Linked DNA regions of Homo sapiens: region 1 is linked to region 2. The links come from fine-mapping of genetic effects on gene expression. A gene starts in region 2. The other region holds a variant in brackets. All regions are shown on one strand. Distances are from middle to middle. Region 1 overlaps CEMIP2 (cell migration inducing hyaluronidase 2). Region 2 holds the start of CEMIP2 (cell migration inducing hyaluronidase 2).

Region 1 (15,312 bases), 84 kb before region 2:
GCTTGTTAGCTACCTAGTATACAGTAATTTTTATAGTAGCCTGAATGGACTACAACAAAATTGGTACCAAGAAGTGGGGTGCTTTTATAACAAATACCTAAAAATGTTGAAGTAGCTCTTGGACCTGGCTGATAGAGGCTGGAAGTGAGATTCACGCTAGAAAAAGCCTATGTTGGCATGAATGGACCATAAAGGGTAATTCTGGTGAGGGCTCAGAAGAGCTGTAGAGAAAGGCTGAATCTTCTTAGAGAATACCTACATGATCATGAACAGAATGGTAAAGGCTATTCTGATAAGGTCTCAGATGGAGATGAGGAATACGCTATTGGAAACTGGAAGAAAGGTGATCCTTGTCATAAAGTGGCAAATAACTTGTCTGAATTATATTATTGGCCTAGTGTTTTTGTGGAAGGTAGAACTTATGAGTAATGAAATGGCATATTTGGTTGAATAAACTTCTAAACAAAGTGTTGAAGGTCTGGCTTAGATTCTCTTGAATGTTTATAGTAAAACGTGAGAAAGGGGAAATGAATAAAGGATGGATTTTTAATCAATAAGGAAGCAGAACTTAAAGATTTGGAAAATTCTCAGCCTGTGTATACTGTAAAAAGTGAGAAATGTGTTGGGAGCTAACACCAAGGGTGTGGCCAAATGACCCTTTGATAAGGAAATTAGTATGGATTGGCCAGGTGTTACTCATCAAGACAATAGAAGAATGACCCTGAAGGCATTTCAGATTGGGGCTGCCACTCACAGGCCCAAGTGCAAGGACCTGGGGGAGAGAATGATTTCAAAGGAGGGGTGATTGGCACCCCTGGGACCTTGGCACCCTCTGCCCAGCCCTGCCTCAAGGTTCTGCTTCCTGCACTTTGTCACCATGCTCCTCCACTGCCCCAGGTGTGGCTCTCGTGGCCCTGATTCAATATGCACTACACCCAGCAGAGCTATAAGGGTCTGGCTCCCTCTACCTAAATTTCAAAGGATGACCTGGAGAGCCTGGAGCCCAGGCAGAAAGCAGCCATGAGGTGGGGCCACTGCAGGGAACCCACACTAGGGCAATTCCCAGTGGAGCCATGGGGGGCATGGCCACATTGAGACCAACAGTTAGAGCCACTGGCATATGATTATATCTGGGGAGAGCTGCAGGTTCAAGACCCAGGCAAGGAGCCACCATGGAGATGGGGCCTGCTCAAAGCCCCATTAAGAGAACTGCCATGGGAATGGGGCTCCTCAAAGCCATGAGGGCAAGGCCATGCCCCAGTGGGTTCAGAAAGGGGAACTTCAACCCCGCTAGGACTGGCAGGAAGAGCCTCGAGTCAAAGAAGATTATTTTCAAGCTTTAAGGTTTTGAATTGCTCAGGAACCATTACCCTCTTCTGCCCTTAAATAAGCATCCTAACTAGTGGAATGAGTCACAGAACCTGGAAATAGACGTGTGACAAAGATGGCATTACAAATGGAATGGAAATGTCTATCCTGTTCCTGTCCCACCATTGTGTTTGGAAGCACATAACATATTTGATTTCACAGGTTCACAGCTGGAGATAATTTGCCCCATGATGAGTCATACCTTCAGTCTCACCTATATCTGATTTGAATTATATTTAGATGATACTTTGGACTTAGATTTTAAAGTTGATGCTGGAATCAGGTAAAACTTTGGGGGCTACTGGGATGAATATACTTTTCATGTGAGATGGAGTTTATTTTGTTTCACGGTGTGAGGTAGGGATCTAATCACATTTTTTTCCATATGGAAAACCAATTTTTCTCACATTATTTATTGAATAATTTATCATTTACATGCTGATTTTTAATGCCATCTTTGTCACACATCATTTCCAGGTTCTCTGACTCATTCCACTAGTTAGGTTGAAGGGCAGATTTCTAGGTTTCAACCCAAGATTCTAACGCAATCCACCTAGAATGGAGTCCATAAATCTGCAATTTCCATAGTTCTGATGGATATTGGCCATAAACCTCACTTTAAGAAACATAATCCTTGGCTTTGGTAAACAAAAGAGAATGCCAGAGTCCAGGGAAGATGATATTCTTTAATACAGGGTAGCCTCCCCTTTATAACCTGTTCTTTTTCCAAGTGGTACCTGAAACCTTAACATCCACTATTCAACAGCCCATTTCAATGCAACTTGACTCACAGAAGTCTGACCACAGAGAGAAGCTAAGCCCTCATTCCTTCTAAACTTAGAAACTCATACTAAGCAGGTGGGTATATCTAAGTAGCTAACTTCCCCATGGTAATTAACAGATTTAACTTTTCCCTTGAAGCAGGAGTCTACCTACCACACACACCAGTGTAACATTATTTTTGTAGCCCTCAGCAAGATAATTACATTAGTACAACAAATGAACTCTCAGACTATGAGAGCAACACACACACACACATACACACAAAGTAACAAGGAGGGCAGAATTTGTTTAGAAAAATATTCTCTCACTGAAGCACACTCAGAAATTCAATGAATAGATAGAGTCCACTGGCTCTGACCTGCTAGTGGAAGAGCAGAGATGGTAGGAAAACTGAAAGAAAACCAAGGTAGAGTCACTGTTCTTCCTCCTCATTTTTTACTTCCAATGTTACCATTCTTTAAGTCTAAAACTCGCTACCTTTATGCTTCATATTAGCCACTTGTCTTCTGTAAACAGATAAAGTTAGCACCAAATAAAAAGAGCCTCTTGTGTTAGGTAGCAACAATAAAAATACTAAATTCTTAATTTAGAATCTGACTCTCCAAAATATCCAACACTTACACTTGTTATCGACTTTAAATCCAATTATTTTAGATAATATTACAGTAAATTATGACTGAAATCAACAAATTGACTCATTTCAAGGAATGTGAAACAACAGCCAGAAAATTTAGATTATCAATATAATCTATATAATAAAATATAATCAATAATTATATTGATTATAAAATATATTGATTATAAAATAAAATATAATCAATATAATAAAATCACACCTTCCCCTCACAAAAATAATTTTATGTTGGTAACTGACCCTCTTCCTGGGGTCAGTTCCTGGAAAAAACTGCACAGGAAGCCCCTAATCCTCATGATTCCTAATCCTGTTTATGTATCATCTATCCACTTGCATCTTTCCTTAACTTTTCTGGCATATGTTTTCAATATAGAGCTGCAACAAAGGAAAGCTATAATTAACAAATCTCTTCCTCTTAGCTATTAAAACAGGTGACTTATAGAAATGCAAGACATTACAAAAAGAAAGAATTTTCCAGTGCTCACAGAGCACAGCTTCCAGGAAGATGTTAGGATAAACATGCTTTCTTGTGGCCAGGACCCTGGGCCTGGAATCTGAGTAGATTATATGTTTCAGAGCCAGGTACTGTTTCTCATCTAGTATCTGTGTTCTGAGAACATTGCTTAAGCTGGAGGAAAATCACAGTATAATCCATGACCTTCCGGAAGGTAATCAGAAGGGATTCTACTCAAGTACAAATACTCATATCCTGTAGATGTACTGACTTCACTACCCAGTGACTAGTTCTCCAGGGTGTGAATTTTCCAGATCTGTAACTTCCTCTACACACAGACGAAATCAGTCTCATATGGAGGTCGATATGCTGCTGGAGGGCAAAAGTCCTCTAAAAGCCAACAAATCAGATATGTCAACAAAAATTCCAGATACACATTACTTTTAGAACTATAAGGTGCTGTGGGCAGATATTTAAAATCACATTGTCTCCCAAGAGACAATTTGTTTTAGACATAAGGACTGACCTGATTTTGAAATACTTTAGCAAGGGCTGAGGATCCTGAGGGTTAGAAGAAAACATGTGAGCAGCAGTGGAGCATGAGTTACGAAACAGTTCTGGGAATGTGGTCTTCCAGTATAACAAGGGCCACAGGAGTGGAACTTGGGCAGTTGGGAGGGGGCAGAGGTGTGACTAAGCAGAAATGGGGCACAGAAACACGGGAAGGTTTGTTGTCAAAGGCACTCATTTTCCAAGTCCTTCAACTCAGCTCAGCTTGTTATATGAACCTTAGCTCTAAACCATTTCACTACATGTTAGCATTTTTTCCTACTTGATAGGAAGGAAAAGTGAAATTGTGTGTGGTTAAAAAACTGAGAGATAGTGGGCTGGGTGCGGTGGCTCACGCCTGTAATCCCAGCACTTTGAGAGGCCGAGGTGGGCAGATTACCTAAGGTCAGGAGTTCAAGACCAGCCTGGCCAACTAGAAACCCCGTCTCCAGTAAAAATACAAAAATTAGCCGGGCGTGTAGCACATACCTGTAATCCCAGCTACTCAGGAGGCTGAGGCAGAAGAGTTACTTGAGCCTGAGAGACAGAGGTTGCAGTGAGCCGAGATCGTGCCACTGCACTCCAGCCTAGCCGACAGAGCGAGACTCTGTCTCAAAAAAAAAAAAAAAACCTGAGAGATAGTTAGAAATGAGATGCTTCTGATCCCTGTTAGTTTATGGTACAGAGGGGTTAGAATAGACAAATTATTAACTGAACTAAAGTTTCCTCTCACAAGAATGAAGAGCTAAAAACTATACATACTAGCAGCAGAACAGGGTAAAGCCACATGTTTTCCACGTTTGTTTGTTTTCCACATTTCATAGCTCCAGTCTGTACACAGCTGATTTGTTGAGTTATGGTGCTAGGGCAACTAAGAGCATGAATGCAAACCTCGTGATGTTCAAACCAAGTCAGTAAATGGGTATTGCCTGGCCTGAGGTCTCATTTTCTAGATACAAGTAACAGCAACAGAGTGTGTCGAAACTAGGGCAGGGTTTGCATCAGGTATCCTCAGTGGTTCCCAAAACTGGCATAATCTTAGAAGTTTGTTTTTTAAAAATCCACATTCCCTAATCCTTAACCCTCAAGACAACAACAACAAAAACACTACTAAATTAGAATTCACAGGAGTCTAGAAATCTAATTTTTTAGAAAACAAACCATCACGTGTTTCTGATGACCAGCCATGTTCAGGAGCCACAGCTGTTCTCATTTAATCCCCCCTGTAATTTCACAAAAGTTACTAATGGATCCACTTTATAGATGAGAAACCTGAGGCTCAGGAGGAAGCTGCTCCTAGGACCACCGCTAAGTAGAGAGCCTTAGCGGAATCAAACCTAGATTGGTCAGCAAAACAACCATACCTACAGCAAGTAACTGTATCAGACACTTTACCCTGACTCCACTTCACTTCCTCTAAGAACTATTTTACTTAAAAAACAACTGACTGCATGCACTCTTGAAAGAGTCAACAAGTTTTGTCATCTTTCTCTCCCATCGGAATTCTCTCATTCTCCTACCCATAGTGGGAGCTAAGGATGTTTCTTGCCTCCTAAGACTTGGAAGTCTTGCGTTCTCCCACATCAGAAACCTACCTGACCCAGGCGCTCCTCCCTCAGGAACTGGATGTTGACAATCAACATGGGCTGATGGGAGAAGGTGAACCTCCCACACCCACCCTCTTCCCTGGCAAGGGTCAATCTCATTATCCACTACTCAGCCACCTCCTGCAGCCCTCCATAAAGTTCATGCATTAAAAGGTTTTTGCTTACAAAGCAAACTGCTTGTATGAAATGATTCATTCTACCTCACAAAAAAATACATCTGAAATTATCAATCAGAGCTTCAATAAATGTAAAATTAGTAAAAAGGGTGGATAGTTTCATCAAAAAGCAAATAAACTTATGTTTTTGTTAGTCTGTGCAGCCTAATTGTGGCCAAATGTACATTTTCCTTCAAAATCCTTAAAATAATAAAACAAACTTGCAGAAAATAAAGAATGGCTGGGATTTCAGAGTAGGAATAACTGTAGCCAAAGGAATCATTGTAGTGGTATTTCAGGCATCATGGCGGGAGGACTTAATCACGGGCTCCAAACCTTTGCCCCAGTAACAGCCACATACTCTGCCCAATATGAAATCTGCCCTAGTCAGAAAAAGTTCTAGGGAAGACTGTGTAGATAGAATCATTAAGGTTAAAAAAAATCAATTTTGTTCAGATGTGTTCTCTGTTGAAGGGAAAGAGGGAAAGGAAGAACAGCCTCACTACATGCTATGAGATGGTCAAACTTTAGTGTTCACAAGAAACATCTGGAAAGCTTGTTATAACATAATATTCCCAGCTTCACAACTCCTGGAAACGCCAGTTCTCCTGTCTGAGCTGGGGCTTGGGATCCTGCATTTTCATCAAGCACCTCAGGCGATTCTGATGCAGGTTTCTTCCTTAAGTTGCTATTTAAAAAATTCTGACAATGTGGTAAGGTTCCAAGAACAGGACAATGAACGCTGGTCTACACTACACTGAGATCAAAGGTTGGTAAACTTTTTCAGTAAAGGGCCTAACAGTACATATTTTTGGACTGACAGTCTCTGTAGCAACTACTCATTTCTACCCCTGCAGCAGGAATTGCCCACAGTTAATAAGTATACAAGAATGAGCTTGGCTGTGTTCCAATAAGATTTGATTTATGGACACTGAAATTTAAATGTCATAGAATTTTCACCACATAAAATATTACTCTTCTTTTTCTTTCTTTTGTTATATTTAAAAACATAAAAATGATTCCTAGCTCAGAATTGCAGGCAGAGGTTTGCCAACTCGGATTTTTCAATTGTGATCATGAAGCCAGCTTTTCTATGGATGAACTTTAAAACTTAATTTTTCATATTTAGACTAATTATTTTGTCCCTCTTAGGAAAATTACAAAAACACATCTATAAAGATGTTTTCTGGTCCACCCTTTGCTGTATTTTCAGATATAACATGTTCACAGCTTGCTATGGCTGATAATTTTGGATGTCCTGTGGGGCACAGTTCCTCATTTAGAAATCACAGTTCAGTCAGTCATTCTCTAAATTTACCACATAAAAATAAAAAGTGTGCGTGCCCTTATCCACAACACCAGGGCCTACTGAAGCATCCTTTTATTAGTTTTTTTCTCAAATTGAAGATAAATAAGGGAAAAACAAAAAAACCTTTTCTCTTCCAAATGACTCAAATGGTCTAGCAAGTCTGTGAACAGCATTTTGCCATTTGTGAGCAAGGAACCAGGAATGGAGTTCCTTTATTTTTTTTCCCTCCATGACCTTTTGTTGAAAACTAGCTTAAATAGTGTCTGCTCACATTTCCAGCACACTGGGTTATAACAGTAATAATGTAATCATAACTAACAGTAATGATACAAATCTGCTGCCCTATTAAAGGTCTTTACCTCCAGGGGAATTTCTCAGGTTATTAAACATTGTTTAATAAGTATCTGGAAACCAAATAAGAATTCCAGAAGTAAGCTCCAACTCTGCATGATGAAATTAACAAACATTGTCATCATTGAATCTATGTATTGTGTTTATCTACTAGGAACAACAGAAAAAAACACTTGAACTAACTAAGCTCATTCCTTCTTACTGAAATGCTTCTCAACCAGACACATCCAAACATGACCTCATCTCTTAAGGAATGAAAACCTACTGTAGTTATCTAAAGCACTCAAGCCTCGATCTGTCACTTCATTACCTTCCCCTCCTCAAGACAAAGTAACCCACTTTAATGGCATGAGGATGTGTTGTCTCTTGATGAAGTTAGAGAACAGAGGAGTCATAAATCCTCTCTTCCCATCCCCGAGTCTAAACATCAGCTTAGAGGCTGCTTTGCAGTCATAGTCCATGAGATGGTGCGTCTGCCTTTCATCTTCTTGCCAGCACTCTCTTCCAGCCTCTGAAGATAATATATGGCATGCTGACTCAGGTGGAGAGGCAGGAATCACAGCAAAGACTTAAACCCTAGTCTGTGGATACATGAGAGCCCTCTGTGTTGCTCGTCAGCTGGCTGATTTGTGGACGACCACATTTTTGGAGCTCAACCAACTGCCTCACCTGATGGAAAATGCTTATGAACTTATAAATCACCTTTGAATATATTTTCTTGGTAGAAATAGAACAGATTGCTAGCTCCCAATTCCCTGAAATGTATATATCAGTGTATAGAACCAATTTAATGATTTGAGAGGACTGAGGACTAAAAACTGTATTAAAAGCTTCTATTAAAAAGAGACAATAGAGAAATGCTTTGTTTAGGGCTGGGAGTTTTGTGAGTAATATAGGAAATGCAAATAAAAATAATAGGTAAATGCAATTTTGTTTTAGTCACAAAAAAATTACAGACTGGAGTTAAACAGTGGGCCTATTATATTAGTGCCGTGGTTCCGAAACCTGGCTGCATATTAGAATCATCCAGGGAGCTTTAAAAAAAATTCCAGTGCTCAGGCTGCACCCAACACCAATTAAATCTGAATCTGGGGGGAAGGGAGTAAAGTCCAGGCCTCTATATTTTTTTTTAAAGCTCCTCAGGTAATTCCAGTGTGCAGCCAAGATGGAGAACCTCTGCCTTGGAGAATACAGTCCCTGCCCTTCTGAAGCTTACTCTTACAATATTTACTTGGTGGATTCTGTCCACCAAGTGTCTTCCTCACTTCCGTCAGTAACTTCTTTACAGCTGGAATCTGGAATTTTAAATTTATAGATAGAGATATAAATTCACATACAGGCCAGGCGCGGTGGCTCATGCCTGTAATGCTAGCACTTTGGGAGGCCAAAGCAGGAGTATCACTTGAGGTCAGGAGTTCAAGACCAGCCTGGCCAACACGGTGAAACCCCACTTCTACTAAAAATACAAAAATTAGCAGTGCATGGTGGCGGGTGCCTGTAATCCCAGCTACTTGGGAGGCTGAGGCAGGAGAATCACTTGAACCTGGGAGGTGGAGGTTGCAGCGAGCTGAGACTGCATCACCTCACTCCAGCCTGGGTGACAGAGCGAGACTCCATCTCAAAAATAATAACAATAATAATAAAATAAATAATAAATAAATTCACATACACACATATATAAAATACATGCACACATATTTTTATTTAACTTAGGCCCTGATTATTAGTATATAAAACAGAAAAACCAAGTGCCTTGGTAATTTACATATCTTCTCCAAATCTTTAAAGAACCAAGCTCTAAAAAACACACGTAAAGATATTTAAGTCATAAAACACACACACACACACACACACACACACACACTCTAATGACCTTCAGGAACCATAATCCAATAATATATTTAATAGGTAAGATCTCATTCATCAATATACAAAAAAAAAAAACAAACCAGAAAACAAAAAACTAACTTTGATTAAGACATGTGCCCTTAGTAAGGGCACTTACAATTAGAAAGGTTTATCGGTAGCACTTTGAGGTAGCATATTTTGTAAAGTCACAGGGCTGCTCTGCAGTTTCTCCTGGATACAAAGGTAGAGGCCATCAGCCTTTGCCCCTAGAAGAGGAAAGTGAAATTATCTGTACTCATTGCCAGTGTCAGCCTGAACACACTTTCTACCACCCACCCTTGGCCATCCCTCCTCTACACTTTATGCGTCGGGGGTTTAGAACAACGTAAAGGCATTTTGCTGCTTCTTTCCTCTTGGTACGGCAGCATCCCAGGCTGTGGAGCCAGTTGCCTCTTGCCGCATGTGATTCACCAGCAGGAGACGCATGCACCCTGTGGAAAGGGAAGCTGGGCATCACAGCATGCTTTTTAATTGGCTTTAACATTTCATTAAGTAAGAGTGACTCATTCCTGCAAGGCTTTAAAGAGGTTCATTTCTGAGTATTCTCTCCACGATTCTGACCCTAGAAAGCGCTCCTTTTTTTCCTCCCTGGGTGTAATCATTTTGGGGTATCATTAAGCTTTCTGGGATTTTCCTGGCAGGAGGGTGAACAGAAAAGCTTTAAAAAATCCACACAAAACAATAACAAAAAACCCAAGTGCAAGAGCAATACCAAGAACAGACTTCCTTTGTGCAAGTTAAAATGATACAAGTTTACGGTTCAGGAAAACAACCTACTTCTTAAAACAAAACAAAACAAAACAAAAAAGGAAATATTCAGTTGAGCTCTGCATTTTAAACACAAATATACAGTCAAAAGAGGCTAAGGATTAAAGCTGCAAAAATGGTCCCAACAGCCTCAGACTTTTGCTGCAGGAAAATTTTTTGCCCAATGGTCACAGATTAAAGGGATATCTAATCCCCAAGAGCCCTTTTGTCCCAATATACTTCCTGTTTGAAAGTTTAACCCTTACAAGTAATTGATATATAAGTGAATAAAAATAGCACATGTCCAGGCAAAAAAGGGCATGAGCTGGGCCTGAGTTGCCACTTAAAACTGTCATTCAATATCATAGAAAATCCTCAAAGGCTGCCCAGAAACAGGGCCCCAGGCACTGCTGAACATGCCAGCCACCAAGTCAACTGCCACCCGACCCAACTGAGCATTAAACTTCAAGTATCCAAGGTGCTACAATAGCTGGTCCTCTAAAGACCTCAGGCTGACTCTCAGAAGCCCCCACTCCACCCCACCCCATTATACAAAAAGTAAAAACATTGCTCATGGTCATTACAAAATACGGGGGTGGAAAGTGAGGAATAAGAGATCTGCTCTCTGAATACACCAGCCTTACAAATACAAACAACGTCTTTAACATTTTGTACAACTAGAAGGTGCATGAAGCTGGTATCCAAGCAATAATTTCAAACGCTTTCTTTTCTCCCCATTCTGTATCAAACTGGAAAATGGTTCCGTTGGGTTAACAGTGTCATTTTAAAATGCCATAAATTAAATAAGTTAGTTCACATTTTTTTTCCCCCAGCACTTAAGTTACAGTTAGTCTCTAATGTGCTTTTGAAGCTTGCTTTAGCAGTTCCAGGTCTCTTCTGCGGACAGTGGTGGCTCTGGGACAACCATATTCGTCCAGCTGCAAAGGTATGAATTGTTCAAGCACCCCAAGGCCCTGTCCAGCAGGACTGGTAAATAGCTTAGTCCATGATGGTTTAAAGTTTCCACTGAATCCCAAAAATATGGTACTCCC[T/TAA]AAAAAAAAAAAAAAAAAAGAAAAAGAAAAAAAATCAATTTTTATAGCTACATTCCAGCAAGAGAATATAGGAGGTGAGTCGGAGGTGAGCAAAACAAAGGCAGCTATTAAAAAACTCTGCACTTCCTTACATCAGCAAATGAACTCTCACCACCCACCTTTTGCCCCAGATAACAAACCACATCCCAACACACTTCCTCTCACATTGTGCCCTTATTTAGAAATCATCTTAATGATACCCACTCCAGCAAACAAGCTCATGAAAATGGTCTGGTAGCTGAATTGCACCATAAAATTACCTATGTTGCTGGCCCTGTAAGAACTTCATGAAATAATACAAATACAAACCTTTGTCATAAAGATGAGCTGGTTTGGCTAATCCCAGAGGTACTAGTAAGTGTGAAATGTTTAACTGCTTTATTTCTCCTCTTGTGCTCAACAGAACAATGGACCTGTATGTGAAATTTAGAAAGTCAGAGCCAATTTCAATCCTTCAGCATGAGTATCTTTCTACTGAGTATCTTTCTGAACTGACTGCTGAATAGAAATATTAGATAAAAGCAGAACTCCAAAAAGAAAAAAGTCTAGATGATTTTCCATCCAATTCCCACTCTTCCACCCCACCACCATGGGCTTCACACGTTGCTCTTACAAGGGGTAACGCATACATAAACCAAATCATTTACGTACGTTCACCTAGTGCAGGGCTTCCCAACCCCTGGGCCATGGATGGGTACCAGTAGATTAGGAACCAAGTTGCACAGCAGGAGGTGAGCAGGCGAGCGAAGCTTCATCTGTATTTACAGCCACCCCACAACACTTGCATTACAGCCTGAGCTCCGCCTCCTGTCAGGTCAGCTGTGGCATTCAACTCTCATAGGAGCAGAACCCTATTGGGAACTGCACATGTGAGGGATCTAGGTTGTGTGCTCCTGAGAATCTAATGCCCAATGATCTGTTGATCATCACCCCCAGATGGGACCATCTAGTTGCAGGAAAACAAGCTCAGGGCTCCCACTGACTTTACATTATGGTGAGCTGTGTAATTATTTCATTATATATTGCAATGTAATAATAATAGAAAAAAAGTGCACAGTAAATGTAATGTGCTTCAATCATCCTGAAACCATCCCCCTTCACCTCCAGTCCATGGAAAAATTATCTTCCATGAAACCAGTCCCTGATGTCAAAAAGGCTGGGGACTGCTGACCTAGTGGATGGTCTGGGGCACAGCTCTTTTAGGGAATAGTCTATTGTTGTTGTTGTTGTTTATAATTTGTATAAATTTGTGAGGCACAAGTGCAATTTCATTACATACATAGGATTGCATAGTGGTGAAGTCAGGGCACTTAGGGTATCCATCACCCAAATAATGTACACTGTGCCTATTCAGTAATTTCCTGTCATCCACCCCTCACCCTTCCTTCTCCATTGTCTATCAGGGAGTAAGTCTACTGTAACATGGGAGAATGGTTTTGTTTTGTTTCAAATACTCTATTTATTTAAGTTCTATTATCTATTTATTAAATAAATGGATAAACACAATTCTAAAAATAAATAAACGACTAAATGTGTTTTCCATGGTTTGAATTACCATTTTTGTCACATAGTAAGCCAACATACATACTTGGACCTATCTGTGGATTCTCCGTTCTTCTCTGATCTTGCTCTTCTCTGCCAAAACTATGCTGGCCTATGGCTTCACGGTCCATTTTAATATTTGATAAAAACAAGCCCTTGTATTACTGTAATTTGTTTATATTTTACTACTTTCTCATTTATTCTTCCAGATGAACTACAGTATCAACTGTCAAGTACAGTAGAAAAGTACCTTTTGGGACACTAATGGAAATGTGTCAAATTTATATTTTAACTAAGTAAATGTAATGCACTTGAATCATCCTGAAACCATCCCCCTCCACCTCCAGTCCATGGAAAAATTATCTTCCATGAAACTGGTCCATGAAATTAACATTTATTAATTTTCCATTCAGAAACAGAGTCTCTCCTTTTATTCAACTTCTGTTGCATATCCTTTAGCAATATATTTAATAATGTATTTATTTTCTGTGTGTGTGTGTGTGTGTGTGTGTGTGTGTGTACACATACAAACTCACTCTTTCAAAAACTTTAATCAGAAATGTTCTTGGCCAGCCGGGTGCAGTGGCTCATGCCTTTAATTTCAGCACTTTGGAAGGCTGAGATGAGAGGATCATTTGAGCCCAGGAGTTCAAGACCAGCCTGGGAAACACAGCAAAACTCCATCTCCACAAAAAATTAGAAAAATAATAAAATTAAAAACAAAAACAAAAACAAAAAATAACCAGCCAGGCTGGTGGTGTGCACGTGTAGTCCCAGCTACTTGGAAGGCTGAAGTAGGAGGGTCACTTGAGCCTGAGAGGTCAAGACTACATTGAGCTGTGGACACATCACTGCACTCCAGCCTGGGCAACTATTTTTGTTTTCTTTTGTTTTTTTAGAGATAGGGTCCTTGCTCTGTCACCCCAGCTGGAATGCAGTGATGCAAGTATAGTTTACTGCAGCCTCAAACTCTTGGGCTCAAGGGATCTTCCTGTCCTAGCCTCCTCAGTAGGTGAGACTACAGGTATGTGCCCACATACCCAGATAATTTTTAAATTTTTCATAGAGACAGGGTCTCATTACATTGCCCAGGCTAGTCTTGAACTCCCGGCCTCAAGCAATCGTCCCGCCATGGCCTCCCAAAGTGCTGGGATTATAGGCATGAGCCACTGTGCCTGAACTCTTGGCCGGTATTACTGAAACAAAAATTTTCAAGAACAAATCAGTGTTTAGGGGGCTCTGAGTAGCTCTTATTAATTAAAAGGTAACATTAGATTGATTTATTTTCAGAGTCATCAAGGATACCTACAGGAAGTTGAAATTTGTGTGGTATGTCTTAATGTGGGTCTCGATGGTTCTTAAGATTAAGTACCTTAAGTTTCATGCTGGTATGGGTTCTTTATGGTAGTCTTTCTTTCTTTCTTTTTTTTTTAGAGACAGAGTCGCGCTCTGTTGCTCAGGCTGGAGTTCAGTGGTACAATCTTGGCTCACTGCAAACTGCCTCCTAGGTTCAAGCAGTTCTCCTGCCTCAGCCTCCCGAGTAGCTGGGATTATAGGTGCCACCAACATGCCGGCTAGTTTTTTGTATTTTTAGTAGAGATGAGGTTTCACCATGTTGGCCAGGCTGGTCTCGAACTCCTGACCTCAGGTGATCCTCCTGCCTCAGACTCCCAAAGTGCTAGGATTACAGGTGTGAGCCACCGTGCCTGGCCTACTGTAGTCTTTCTAAAGCAGTGGTGACACAATCTAAAATTAGTGCAGCAGTCTAAGCACGGCTACCCTGCAGACCTGACCTTCTTCAATAGGTCAGAATTACCCATAAGATCATTTACAGGTCACCCCGCAACCCTATACACATAGACACGTGCTCAGTCTCCCTAGAAGTCACTGCCAGTTGCTCCATACCTTCTTAACACTTTGTTAAAATGTTACACACACACTGAATTTTTGCAAACGAAACCTATCTGCATAACCAGAGGCAGATCAAGAAACAGCATTACCAGTATCTTAAAAGCCTTTCTGTTAATGAGTTGGTTTTACCTCTTAAATCTATGGGGTACCTTGCAGGACTACCATGTTGTCCTAAATACTTGTGGTGAGATTTATGTCCTGGATTGTTTTAGGGGAAGTGAGTGCATGTATTTTCAACATTAGGAAAAATCTTTAAATCCTGCAAGAAAATTGAGGCTGTACAAGTGTCTTAAGCCAGAAGACAGAACGACATATATACATTTAATGTTACATCCAAATAATCCAGTGACTTCATAGAATTTATTGGCATCCGGTTCTATAAAGCATAAGCTATTGGAAAATGATTCTAAAGCTAGATAGGCCTTTAATTTGGGGAAAGCTTAAGTTCCTTCCTTAATGGTTCCATTAAATGAAAGCGGGTGTATAAATCAACATCTGCGGCAAAGGCAGAAAACACCCTGAGTTCATCTCCTTGCCTCCAGGCAGGGTCTCACCAACCCAGAAAAAGAAAGGTTTCTCTCCTGTGCAGCTTTCTTCAGAGACATCAAAGAAAACCAATCAGACTAGTGCTCTGTAAGAGCGATTGCACACTCAGCCACTTCAAAAATCAATTTACTCTTTTCCAGTCATTTCCAAGTGACCCAGGTGATGACTTCCTGTATCACAATCATAGTGCAATGCTGTCCAAGACCGTCAGTGCGACAGAGGGTTGCAAAGGTAAACTGCCTGGAAAATCACTTCAAAATAGTAATAAGCCTTCTGAGGGAGTTGTGGACAAAGTATATCAACTTAATACTAAAAAGTATAATGCTCTGATATTTGTTTTACGAAACTCAAAAAATA
Region 2 (12,536 bases):
ATGTGTAAGCATGGGAGCCTTCAGAAGGAAAACCCAACTTCCCAATGAGGCACAGAAGTTGTATGATATCCTGAGGTTCCAGGGAGAATGAGGGCTTGGATCCTGGTAAAAAAGGTTATGGGAAGGAGAAGAGGAGGAATTCTATTGAGGGAATAAATGATTACTAGGGAGAATGATTGGATGGGGAAACAGAAATTGACTTCTAGATAGTTCTTTTTGGAATTTAAATGATCCGTGGAGGTAGTCTTTATCTTGAATAGGGCTGTTCGGATGTGGTTAGATTTTTGGTCCTTCCTGCAACGGATAATGAAATAAAAGGGAAAGAAGCAGGGATAATTGTTCTCCTTGTTGGGGGGTACGGGGAGGTGGGGGGGGGATGGCAGGGGGTCAGTCCTATCTTTGTAGTAGGGGAAAAGTCTCTCCAGGAACTTTTTGATCTCTAAAGGCTTTTAATTTAAAATACTCATTTTACCAGGGAAGCCATATATTGCGGTGAAGTATTTTTATTTTCTTCAGAATATTTCAAACCTATAGTCCTAAAAAGACTAAATTTACTTAAAAAAAAAAAAAGATACTAAGCTTTGGATTAGAATAAGTATTATTTAAAGTTGAAAGATTTATTTTCCTGCTTAAAAATTTACTTTTGTATTAAGCTATAGTCTTTTTGCTAGAAAACTACTAAAAAACTATAGTTAGGAAATAAATCTCTGGAAAAACAAAAATTAACTATAAATACTAAGAGTTTGCTTAACCTGATAATAACAAAATAAGAAATGCCTATGGTCTGTATTTAAGGAATTCAGATGAGCAACTTAGCCACAGTTTCACTAAAGTGGCCACATCTTCGGCAAATCACATTGGACTCTCCTGTTAAAATATGAATCCCTCAAAACAAAGAGCTGCTATTTATAATGTTTAATGCCAAAAGTGAACCAAGTGAAAACTTCTTAAAGTGAAATAAATGACTTTAAAGAAATATTTAAAATTCATTCCTATGTTTCTGTCATTTATGCAAGGTAAAGGAGGCAGCTGTCTAATTTTTCTGATCCCAAATATACTAATTAATCCTATCTTTTTCCAACGATGTTAAACAAGTCTATGAGAAGTAATGCTTGACCCTAAAGCCAATGAGGCTGATACGGCCAAAAGGTTAAAATGTATTATCATGCCCAAAAAAAGAAAAACATAAAAGGAAAAAACTGCAGACCTACTACAGACCAAGCGGGGAGGAAGGGTAGCAATTAAGAACAGCTAACACTCTCTGAGCAACCAAAAATAAAAATAAAAAGAGAGCAAAGTACATAGGCCTCTAGGTGGAAGTAAAGAACTAGAAGATAAACTGCAGAGAGATAGATTGTTCTTCAACCCAGAAAATTAGAAAAAAGGGAAAAAGGTCGTTGTACCTACCAGTCATTCTCTATTCCCTTCGGTTTCCTTTTTTCCTATTAATATTTCTCATATTTCTTTTTCTCCTTAATTCTTTTTATTGAAAAGCTGTTCTCTTTTCTCCCTTCCTTCCCAGTGATCCTAGACCATCCCCCTTCGCCCTTGTTCTCAACTGGCTGGGAAGATTCAAGAGAGGCTTCCAACCTGCTGGCAGTGACGGATGGCAGTGCAGAGGCACACAATGGCAAGTGCAGGCGCGTCACCAGCCTTGCAGCTGGCCTTCCAAAGAAAGAACCAAAGTCGAAGTCTGTCCTGACAGAGGCTGATTTAATTAAGGTTATAGCAAAGGGCAGAACTGCCTGTGGGCTGCATTCTCTGCAGAGGGCCAAAGACAATGCATTAAAATACTTCTCAGGAAGAAAAAACCAAGAAAGTTATGTTGGCAAAATGTTGAAAGGTGGGAAAAATGAAAAGACAACAGGGATGTGTTTGAAAAACAAGCAAAGACCTGCCAAAGTTCATGATCTAGTGATGTACAGATACCAAAATGCAATGACAATAGGAAACAGAAGGGGTATGTTTTGATGTGCCTTTCACACTAGAAATATTTCAAATGAATAATGAGATGCCCAGACTGAAATAATCCAAGGCTGTTCAATCCAGCATCATAGTAAAGTTTCTATCAATGGCAGGGCCAGGACCAGAACCCAAGTTGACTATTTCTTTCAACTGTAACACATAGCCTATTTTTAATATAACTTAAACCACTTGGAATAAAGCCTTTTCAAACAGGGCACAAGGTCAGCTTTGAGCATCTCTTATGAGAAAAGGGTTCTGCTAGACACTGGAGACCCAATAGTACAAAAAATAAACATGGTTCCTACATTCAAGAAGCTCACAGCCCAGCATTTGGGGGTAGAAAGAGTAGGGAGACAACACAAGTAAACAAGTAATTAAACTGAATGTTGAGGCAAAGAAGGTGGGCTGAGGAGGTGATTGCTTGAGTTTATTAAATCCCTATGAATGGAATAGAGCTTAATTTTCTAAAAGCCCTGGCAAATTTACTCACCCAAATGTGCACCACCAGACGATTACTAATATCTTTCTTATTTTGCATGTGTAAACTAAAGTCTACCACTGAACTCCGCCATTTAAATGACGACACGTTGCCCAATAGTGACTAAAAAGTATGGGAGGGAGGGGAGGGTGACACACTACAGAAGTCTTTCATATTCTTTGAAAGGGTGTCACCTGCAGGTGAGTTCCAGGCCAGAATATAAAACAGTCATAGTCCCTCTCCTCCTAGGCCACGTGAAACCTAAGCCAAACAAAAGGGCCATCTTACACATTCTCAACAGTTTCCTCTATGTTCCTCAAGACTCAAGGGTGCTACAGAGTCAAAAGGCAGAACTTCTAATGAACAAGTAATTACTCAGCACTAGAGTGGCAGCTGGACTTCACTTAGCCGAATAGGGATACACTGTGGCTAGGAAGAGGTGAACAATGATGTGCACCTGTAGTCCCATCCACTTAGAGGCCGAGGCAGTTGGATGGCTTGAGCCCAGGAGTTCAAGACTATAGTGTGCTAGGACTACTATAGAGCCACTGCACTCCAGCCTGGGTAACCTAACAAGACCCCATGCCAGCCCCGTCACCAAAAAAAAAAAAAAAAAAAAAAACTGGCTAGCAGCAGCATAACAGGCAAACAGGGGCTACGTGACAAGCCCAAGTGCTGCAAGCACTAACAGGAGGCAAGAAAAAACACTTGAAGATTAAAGCCAACCTCAGACTCAGCCAAGCCCTGCTCAAGCATATTTTTCAAATCCTCATATAAAGTTGATTTTATAGTGGTGGCACTGGTGGCATTAAAAAGCAATGTTAGTATGGGTGCAGTGGCTCACGCCTGTAATCCCACCACTTTAGGAGACTGAGGTGGGAGGATCACTTGAGGCCAGGAGTTCAAGACCACCCTGGGCAACATGGTGAAACCCTATCTCTACAAAAAAATATAAAGATTAGCTGGGCATGGTGGTGCATGCCTGTACTCCCAGCTACTCAGAAGGCTGAGATGTGGAAAGATAGCTTGAGCCCAGGAGGTGGAGGCTGCAGTGAGCTGTGATCATACCAATGCACTCCATCCTGGGTGACAGAGTGAGACTCCTGTCTCAAAAAAATATATTTTTTTAATGTTATGTTTTTTCAAACCACAACTTAAAAAAAAAAAAAAGAAAACCTCAAGAACTCATTTTTCTAATTCCTCCTGAAACAGGAATCAGGCATATGTCCCTGTGTTAAGCTAAATCTTTCCCATTCCTAAAATGTTAATAATTAACTTTCCAAACTTCATTGTATGTGAAAAAATGATTCATTCTTCAGGGAAGTGAATCACCATTACAGAGACCATTAAGACAACAGAAGGCTTGCTGTCTCCAAAGTGCACACCAATAATTAAGTAAGAGCCCCCAAATCGATAACAATTTCACACTGGAGGGGGACTTAATCTGACCTGACCACGATATCAAATTTATAGTGGATATTCATATGTTTTAAGATACTTACATGAAACTCAGTCAGAGGTCAATTCTTTTCTCATGGGCTCAATGTGGATTGTCTTAAATTTCAACTCTTTCAGGCAACAACATCCTAATGACACTTCTAACCAGTGGTAAAGCCTTATTAAAAAATATGAGGATTAAGAATGCCACAATCTCTACCAGGCAAACTTTTCACATAAAATTCTTATCAAATATTGAACTTTTACTTATTGTTCAAACTACAATGGACCCTTGATACAACAAATGTAAAAAGGTTTATCACTTTTCACCGTGTAAAGAAAATAAATGTCTTGTTACAAATCTGGTTACTAGGTTACCCTAATATTAACAATTTCAAAGCAGATTTGCCTTATAGATCAAAGGACTGATTTGTTGGGAGATAGCAATTCTGTGTTTTAAGACATACAGTTTATGAGTCTTTCACTTTTTTTAAAGACATTTTAATAAAAACCCTATGCTTAATTTATCTCTGTATTGCTCACAGCAACCAGTACAGTGCCTTGCACATCCTAGGAATGCAATAAAATAGTTGCTGAACATAGTTCCTGACAACCAATATTAAAGGCTTCCCAAAGCAAGTACCAGGAAAACAAAAGAACAAGCAAACATGACCTACAGCCATAAGTTTTGAAGAAGAAAAAAAAGAACATGCAAACATATTCTAGTATGCTTTTATTCTATGATTCACAAGCCAAATCTGAACAGGGTTTCCAGGAACTTGCTTCTTCTAAAAAATGTGCACATCTACAGTACTTTAAATTTCCATCCTGTTTATAGAAAATACAAGTAAAGCTAATGCTATTTTTACACTTAGTTCCTTATTTCCCAGAAATTTGTTACAAGTAACATCACCCCACCATCATGTGTAAGTAGTAGGCAATGAAAAAATATACATAGTGTCTGCCTTAAACCTGAAAGCAGTGACTTTCAAAGCCCAAATACAAATTATCTGATCATTAAACTAATTAAATTGCTAACAAAGCCAAACAGGAATAAAATAAGAATATATCTGAGAAAGAAAAAAAAAAAAGTGCTGACTGGAAACAGGGACAAAGGAGTTCTTGTCCCTGCTTGGCTATTAATTTACTATATGACCTTACCTAATTATTTAGCCTCTCTGGGTCCCAACTTCCTTGTTTTAATATTATCTTTGAGGTCCCTTCAAGCGACATGCTAAGATTCAGCATATGTAGCAGTGTCTAGAAAACTGATTTACATTCATTACCCCCCTCCCCACCGCACCCCTGGCAAAAGGGCACAGTTCACTTGATAGTTTTAAATATCTGAGTTTGGATTTCTATCAAAGGCAATTTATTAAAATGTCAGATGGGCTTAAGTCCATTTCAAGTGGAGAACTAAAGCGAGTATTGCTAACAGATTCGCCTAGACAGCAGCTGCTGCTATTGAGAGAATAGACTTTAACAATCTAGATGAAAATTATACCTCTTTACAAATGGAGAAAACTAGTAATGGGGATTTTCATACTCTCAAAAAGGCAGATGCATAGCTTTTCTTCCTTTTTTTTTTTTTCCTTTTCCATATTCATCATATTGAGAGAGAGGAAAACAGAAGGGCTAGCTTGGCTTGGGAGGCAGAGGGGAGAATGGATGTTACCGTACAAAACCAGACAAGACCTTTTCAATTGATGTACTGTACTAGACAGCCCATTCTTCTCACTAATGCTCACAATCCAAGAGAAATGAAAAGATTTCCTGTGGCTGGGATGGGAAGAAGCCTGGACAAGAGAGCAATACCATATGACAGTAACTAGCTTAAAAGTCTAAAGACTTGCTCTCAAGATGGGATTCAGATCATTCTGGAAAGGGCCAATAAAATGAAAATCTGTAGCTGAGACCTGATTAAGCTATGATTTATATCTATTTATAGCTTTAAAAAACTTTTGAAAGTACCTTTTGATACCAGACAGCATTAGCCTGTACAGTACTTTATCATATATTAATACATAGCAAACTTACTCAAATTGAATCCCCAAAACATTCCCATAAAGCATTTTAAAACTCCTTTTTCAGGTGAAGAAACAACGTGAGAAGGATTAGGGGATTTGCCCACAGCAAATGTTTAGCAAGTGCCAAGCCTTGTTTTAAATCCAAGTCTGACTTCAAGTCCTCCAATCTTCACCATTTTAAGATAGTACTTCTGACACTAGTTTTCAGTCCCTACTATTTTGTCTGATTTAACAAATTTTATTTCTCACAAAATTGCTCCCCCACCCCCAACTGTTCCTTCTCTGGCTTCTTAGAGCGTTCTGTGCGTAATTCTCCCAGACATGCACTTATTGGACCTTCTAATTGTTCATTTCCTTATGTCCGGGGCTAGGCTCATTTCTTCAATAGCAGAGATTGTCATCTCTCTAGTTGCAAGTGACACAGGTATCTTCAATCCCTGTGGCCTCCCGGGTTGCAACCACTTCAACTCCTTCTCTTTACCAACATGAATGCTCCACAAAGCAGGTGTTGCAATTGCTTCCAGAGGGTCTGGACCACAATAGGTGATTAATAAGTGCTAGCTGAATGGATGGTGGGTGGGTGAATGATGCAATGCTCATACATATTTTAGAGCACACATCACAATGCACACATTTACATACAGCACTCCATGTGAGTCTAAGACCATGAATTTGGTAGTGATTATTGTTTCTTCTTTTTTTTCTTTTTTTTTTTTTCAGATGGAGTCTCGTTCCCATCACCTAGGTTGGAGTGTAGTGGCACGATCTCGGCTCACTGCAACCTCCACCTCCCAGGTGCAAGCGATTCTCCTTCCTCAGCCTCCCGAGTAGCTGGGATTACAGGCGTGCACCACCACACCTGGCTAATTTTTTTTTGTATTTTTAGTAGAGATAGGGTTTTACCATGTTGGCCAGGCTGGTCTCAAACTCCCGACCTCAGGTGATCCACCTGCCTCGGCCTCCCAAAGTGCTGGGATTACAGGCGTGAGCCAATTGTGCCCGGCCTAAGTTTCCTCTTTCTAAAATGTGGCTTGTCTTTCTCAATTTCAGAAACTTGCCCAAAGCATGTAGCTCTAAGCAGTACCCTGTCAACTTCAAGATAATGGCCCACAAGACTACATTACCCTCCAGCTTGTCTTTTCTTGATAGCTGTTTGAGGACAGCATTGATTAGGCCTATTAGAACATGACTGAAGTGTTGCCCCATTCTGGTTTCCTGTTATGAATCTGACATTTCTGAAAAGTCACTGGTTACAGACTAGATCAAGGAAGGAGACTACTCAAATAATTAACTGTGACACAGAATATCCAGATAAACACCATGTAAGAATTTACAGATTCTATTTCCCTGTCCACACACAGGAGAGTCCTCAGCTCACTATCTCATTCACAGGTTAATAAGAACAGGTGATGACTCAGAATTCGCTTCTAATCTTAGTTTTCTGAGCCTTTAAGCACACATACATCAGAAAAAAACAGCGTCAGGAGGACTGAACAGAAAGCCAGAAGACAGATTTCCAGTTCCGCCCAAACTGATCCTCTAATGCAGGTACACAGAAGCTGGGGGAAGTCATTTCGGTGTGAAGAGAAAAGCACTCTAAAGTGCTACCCAATGTTTACTAAGCAGAGGACATGCCTACTACACATTCTTCTGCTTTGCCCAGAAATGCAAACTAAAAAGAACCCTTTGTATAGGTAATCAGACCCACAACCACAGTATGATACCCAGACCAATTCTGAAAAGAACAAGCGTCCTTCAAGGGTCAAATAAGCATTAGTAGCTCCATTCTAGCCAACCAAAGAAAGATAAGGCTAACCATTTTAAAGGTGTTTTTTTAACACTGAGCCATTTCCAACAGATTTGCCTGGCTGCTCTGGGGAGTCAGGCCTCCCTCAGCTCAGGTGAAGCCTCTACCCTTTCCCCTCTCTCTAAATTCTTCTCACTTTTTACCGGGAAGAGCAGCACATCTCAATACATGCAACTGTGCAGCAGCGCATCACTCTGTCACACTGAATCAAGGGGAGTGAACTCAAGGCAGTGAGTAGCTCATGTGCACAATGAAAGTTTTAAAAATTATTAGGCAGTCTATCCTTAATCCCAACTGCTGATAAAAGGAGATATATATCAAAGTCTGTTTTCCTAACCTGCGGAGAATTCAAGTGAGCTGTTTCCGCTCCAGGTCGAAGTCTGGTGACACTCATCAACCCTCAGCAGAGAGCATCCAGGGAATTCAGGACCTTGGTTTTATCGCTAAGGGTGTAGCCACTAGTGCTATTAACAGCAGCACTCTGGGTCCTCACAGAGAGGGCCCCCCTCCTTTACCAGGATCTCCCAACTCTGCAGAGAAAAGCTGGGAATAGGGTCCAGGGCTAAGGCTATTCCCCAGATTTAAAGGAAGCTGTACACGATTTTAAAGCCTCACCTTACCTCAGCTAACAGAGAGGCAGGGGGCGGAGGGCGGAGGACCCACCAACCCAGGGGAATTGTAAGGAGACAAAGATGACCCCAAACGCACAAGCGCGCGCGCACTGAAGCCCGGACTGCAAAGCACATTCCATCAACCTTTCACTGTAATCGGCTTACTGTGGGGTTTATCCCCTCACCCCATCCCTCTCCAGAAAGTTTAAGGCTGTTCGCACCGACTTTGAAAGGTCCATTGTTCCCTTCCCCGTAAACGTAATGAAAAGAGAGAGTGGAGAGAAAGAAATCAAGACACCGTTCCCGAGGACCCTTTCTTAAGAAGAGAGGACTGACTCCTGGGGAGTCGGGTCAGTCCCAATCCAGAGATGAAACCGGGAAAGGAGGCGCACGGGGGAAGGGCGGGAGGACGTTTTCCTTTTCGGCAGAAATGCCCAACGCCGGAGCCGGCCAGGCCGCCGGGAGCAGAAAAGGTGGGCGAGACCCGGGTCTGCGTCCCCGCAGTGGCCCCCGAGGGCAGCAAACGAGGTGGAGCGGGGTGGGGGGGCGGGTGACCGAGTCGCTTCTTACCTTCCCCTACCCCGCTTAGCGTCCGTTAACTCAGGTGCCTACACAGCGGTCCAGGGAGACGGAGAGGAGTCCCTGGCGTCCTCGGGTCCAGATCTCCTCTCCATGGCCAGGAAGCCACTCGATTGCCGGCGCCCGCAGCTGCCGCTCGTACTCAACTGGCAGCCGCAGCCTCTGCCTGGAGGTGAAATACTCTCCTCCCGAGAGTGACGCGCACTTCCCTCCGCCTCCGCCTCCTCCTCCTCCTCCTCCTCCTGCCCCGAGCCTCGGGGGCAGGGGCCTCGGCTCGCTCTCTCCCGGAGCCGCCGCTCGGCTTTCTCCGTTCCTTCCCCTCCGGGAGAAAGAGGAGGAGAATCGTGGCCCGGGCGGCGCGGGCCTGAGCGTCCCCGCGACAACAGGGGAGGAGGCGGCGGCGCGGGGCAGAGTGGGGTCCCAGGAGTCGCTCTTGTCCCTGGTCGGCGGGCGCCGCGGCTTGCTAGGGTCGCGCTCAGCCTCCGCCGGCCAGACAAGCAGCCCGGCTCGGCTGGGCCGGGAACTGTGGATTGGGCGGGCGGGCGGGCGGGCGGTGGAGAGCGAGGGAGGCGGAGGGAGAGGAGGAGCCTGCCATCAGAGGAGGCGGTGGCCCCGCCCGGCCCCTCCCGCCGGCCCCGCTCCCCGCGAGCTGCGAAAGCGGAGGCTCAGCGCCACTCGCTGCCGCGCGCTGGAACAGCGCCCGAGCGCACTGCCGGCGGGGCAGAGCCCCAGCCAGCGCCCCCCGCTGCGGCTGCAGGCTCCTACCCTTCCTGGGCGCGCACACCCGCCTGGCCGAACCGGAGCCTGTGCCTCCAGCACCCCCAGATAAGGCTGGTACTGCGCCTGTCACTCCCTGGCTGAGCCTGACACTGCGCCCCCAAAGTCCCCTGGCTGAGCGTGACTGCACCCCATCAACCCTCGGCTGCGTCAGACTTTGAGCCCCATCACCCGTAAAGAGATTTCCACACTCCCACAAATGTTCTGAGCGTCCAGTCACAGCCCCTACCTGGCCAGGCGCGAGCGCCAGGTTCTCAGCGCTGTCAGAAGAACCAGCCTGCTCTGGGACACAGGGCAGCTCTTCTGGTCCCTTGGAGCAACCCCAGCATCCCGCTCGCAGGCCGGAATAAATATACTTAGGTCTTCCCACGCCCCCTACCTGCGCCACTCTGGAGTGGCGGCCGCTTGCAGAGGTGGCGCCGAAAGCCACGCCCCGGCCCACCCCAGTGCCAAAACGCCGCTCTGAGGACACCGGCACCGGCCCTGAAGCAGCCCTGCCGCCGCCACCCTGCCCCCTCGCTGGAGCTGCTCTCACAGCCTTGGCTCTGGGTGAGGGCGCGGCCCGGGCTGGATCACTCAGACGCACGAGGTCCCGAGCTAGTGACAGCTGCAGGACTGCCAAATCCGGGCCGTCGTCATCCTCGATTTAATTGGAATTGGAAGTTTTCCCTCCAGGAAACTCTTTCAGTGAATAATATACAAGGTAGGATAGTTTAGTTTTCAGGGTTGTTCATTCCTCCTCCCTCAACAAACTCAGTCCTGTAACCGCGACACACCCGGCAGTGAAGGGGAATCCCCTATTTCAAGGGTATTAGTTCAGGACTTTGTATAAGAAATTACTGTTTCCAAATCTTGGCTGATGATAAGAATCCCCTGGGGCACTTAGAAAAAATTGGATTGCCAGACGTCGCGCAATCTACTGAATCAGAGGTATCGGGAATATGTAAGTTTGGGAAACAGGGCTAGAATGCATCCTCTAATTAATTAAAGCCTTGGAAAGATGCCTCCAAAACAGCAGCGCGAGCTAGTGCTGAGATCTTACAGAAACTTCACCCAGCTGCCTTTGAGAGCCGCTGTCCCTTCTGGGATAGGCAGGGAGGAAAGGTTTTTAAAATAAGGAACATAGTTTTGAATAACAAGATGGAAGGGACAAAAGACTGTTTTCATGGTCCAAAGGTGTTTTGGATTGTGCTTAATAAAGATAGAAACTGTGTCACCCGTGTGCTAGGCTGAAAAATGTTCCCTCCCCAGAGATAACAGGTTCTAAGTCCTGGAACTTGTGCATATTACCTTACATAGACAGAAGCAGGGCCTTCGCATATGTGATTCAATTAAGGGTCTTCTTGAGTTGGGGAGATTATTCTGGATGATCAAGATGGGTCCTAACTGCAGTCACATGTACTTTTATAAGGGGAAAGGGGGTGGTTAGCACACACAGAGGAGGGCTGGCCACTGTGGAGGCAGAGATTGAAGCGATGCCTCCACAAGGCAAGGAATGCCAGCACAGAGGCAAGGATTCTCCCCTAGAAACTCTGAAGTGAGCAAGATCCTGCTGACACCTTGATTTTGGCCCAGTGAAACTGAGCGCAGTCTCCTGCTTCCAGAAGTGTGAAAGAATAAACTTCAGTTGTAAGCTACACTGAGTTTGGGTGATATGTTGCAGCATAGGAGGCCTGTGCTGGGCCAACTTTATATTACAAATATCCATTTTTTGAATCCTTATTAAGTGCCAGGCACTTTGCTTGGAGTTAGGATATGTTATGGGATATGTTGTCTAATTAAATCCTCCCACTAATTATTATTTCCGTTTTAAAGATGGGACAGTAGGACTTGAAAATTTAAAGGGTCTTCCCAAGGCCACACAGTAAGAACCTCTTGGAATCAAGTCTGCAAACCACTCAAATGTTAAAAATAGCAATTAGGCCAGGCGCGGTGGCTCACGCCTGTAATCCCAGCACTTTGGGAGGCTAAGGAAGGTGGATCACAAGATCAGAAGATAGAGACCATCCTGGCTAACATGGTGAAACCCCATCTCTACTAAAAAAAAACACACAAAAAATTAGCCAGGTGTGGTGGCAGGCGCCTGTAGTCCCAGCTACTCGGGAGGCTGAGGCAGGAGAATGCCGTAAACCCGGGAGGTGGAGCTTGCAGTGAGCCAAGATCGAGCCACTGCACTCCAGCCTGGGCTACAGAGCGAGACTTCATCTCAAAAAAACAAAACAAAACAAAACAAGCAATTAAAAATTTATATACATTAGTCTAATAAAATTTTTGGTTTTAAAAAGGACTTATTTATTTCCACAATCTGTATTTATTGCCCAAACCAAGGGAAATGGATGTTGATTGATAGTGGAGTGGGCTAGTGGGGAACAGGGGTGTAGGAGACCTCTTTACACTTGCGCTCAATTTTGTTGTGAACCTAAAATTGCTCTAAAATATAGTCTGTTAACTAAAAAAAAAAGGGTAGGGGGATTGAATCTGTGTGTGGCCTATCTTTGAGAATTGTATAAACTTTTGTTTTTAGATATTTATCTGGAACATAAAAAATCAAAGGAAAGGCCGGGCACGGTGGCTTAAGCCTGTAATCCCAGCACTTTGGGAGGCCAAGGCAGGCGGATCACCTGAGGTCAGGAGTTCAAGACCAGCCTGGCCAGCATGGTGAAACCCCACCTCTACTAAAAATACAAAAATTAGCCGGGCATGGTGGCACGCACCTGTAGTCCCAGCTACTCGGGAGGCTGAGGCGGGAGAATTGCTTGAACCTGGGAGGCAGACGTTGAAGTGAGCCAAGACCTCATCATTGCACTCCAGACTGGGCAAAAGAGGGAGACTCCGTCTCAAAAAAAAAAAAAATC

Evidence for each region. PIP is the estimated chance that this variant, and not a neighbour inherited with it, causes the effect.
Region 1: its variant is fine-mapped to the expression of CEMIP2 in whole blood (INTERVAL, PIP above 0.99).

What each region holds. Positions count from the first base shown.
Region 1 is chr9:71,674,478-71,689,789 of GRCh38, forward strand. CEMIP2 (cell migration inducing hyaluronidase 2) reads right to left here. Exons shown (of 24, transcript NM_013390.3): 23 at 11,266-11,369; 24 at 8,889-10,916. The coding sequence ends at 10,720. Among named protein-coding and RNA genes, the nearest start is that of CEMIP2, 86 kb to the right of the region's middle. The variant T/TAA (reference allele first, on the strand shown) is at 10,918.
Region 2 is chr9:71,759,462-71,771,997 of GRCh38, forward strand. It overlaps CEMIP2 (cell migration inducing hyaluronidase 2), which reads right to left and starts at 9,052. Exons shown (of 24, transcript NM_013390.3): 1 at 8,896-9,052. RefSeq lists enhancers at 3,641-3,785, 8,710-9,391, 9,392-10,073, a cis regulatory region at 3,706-3,719 and a silencer at 9,147-9,816.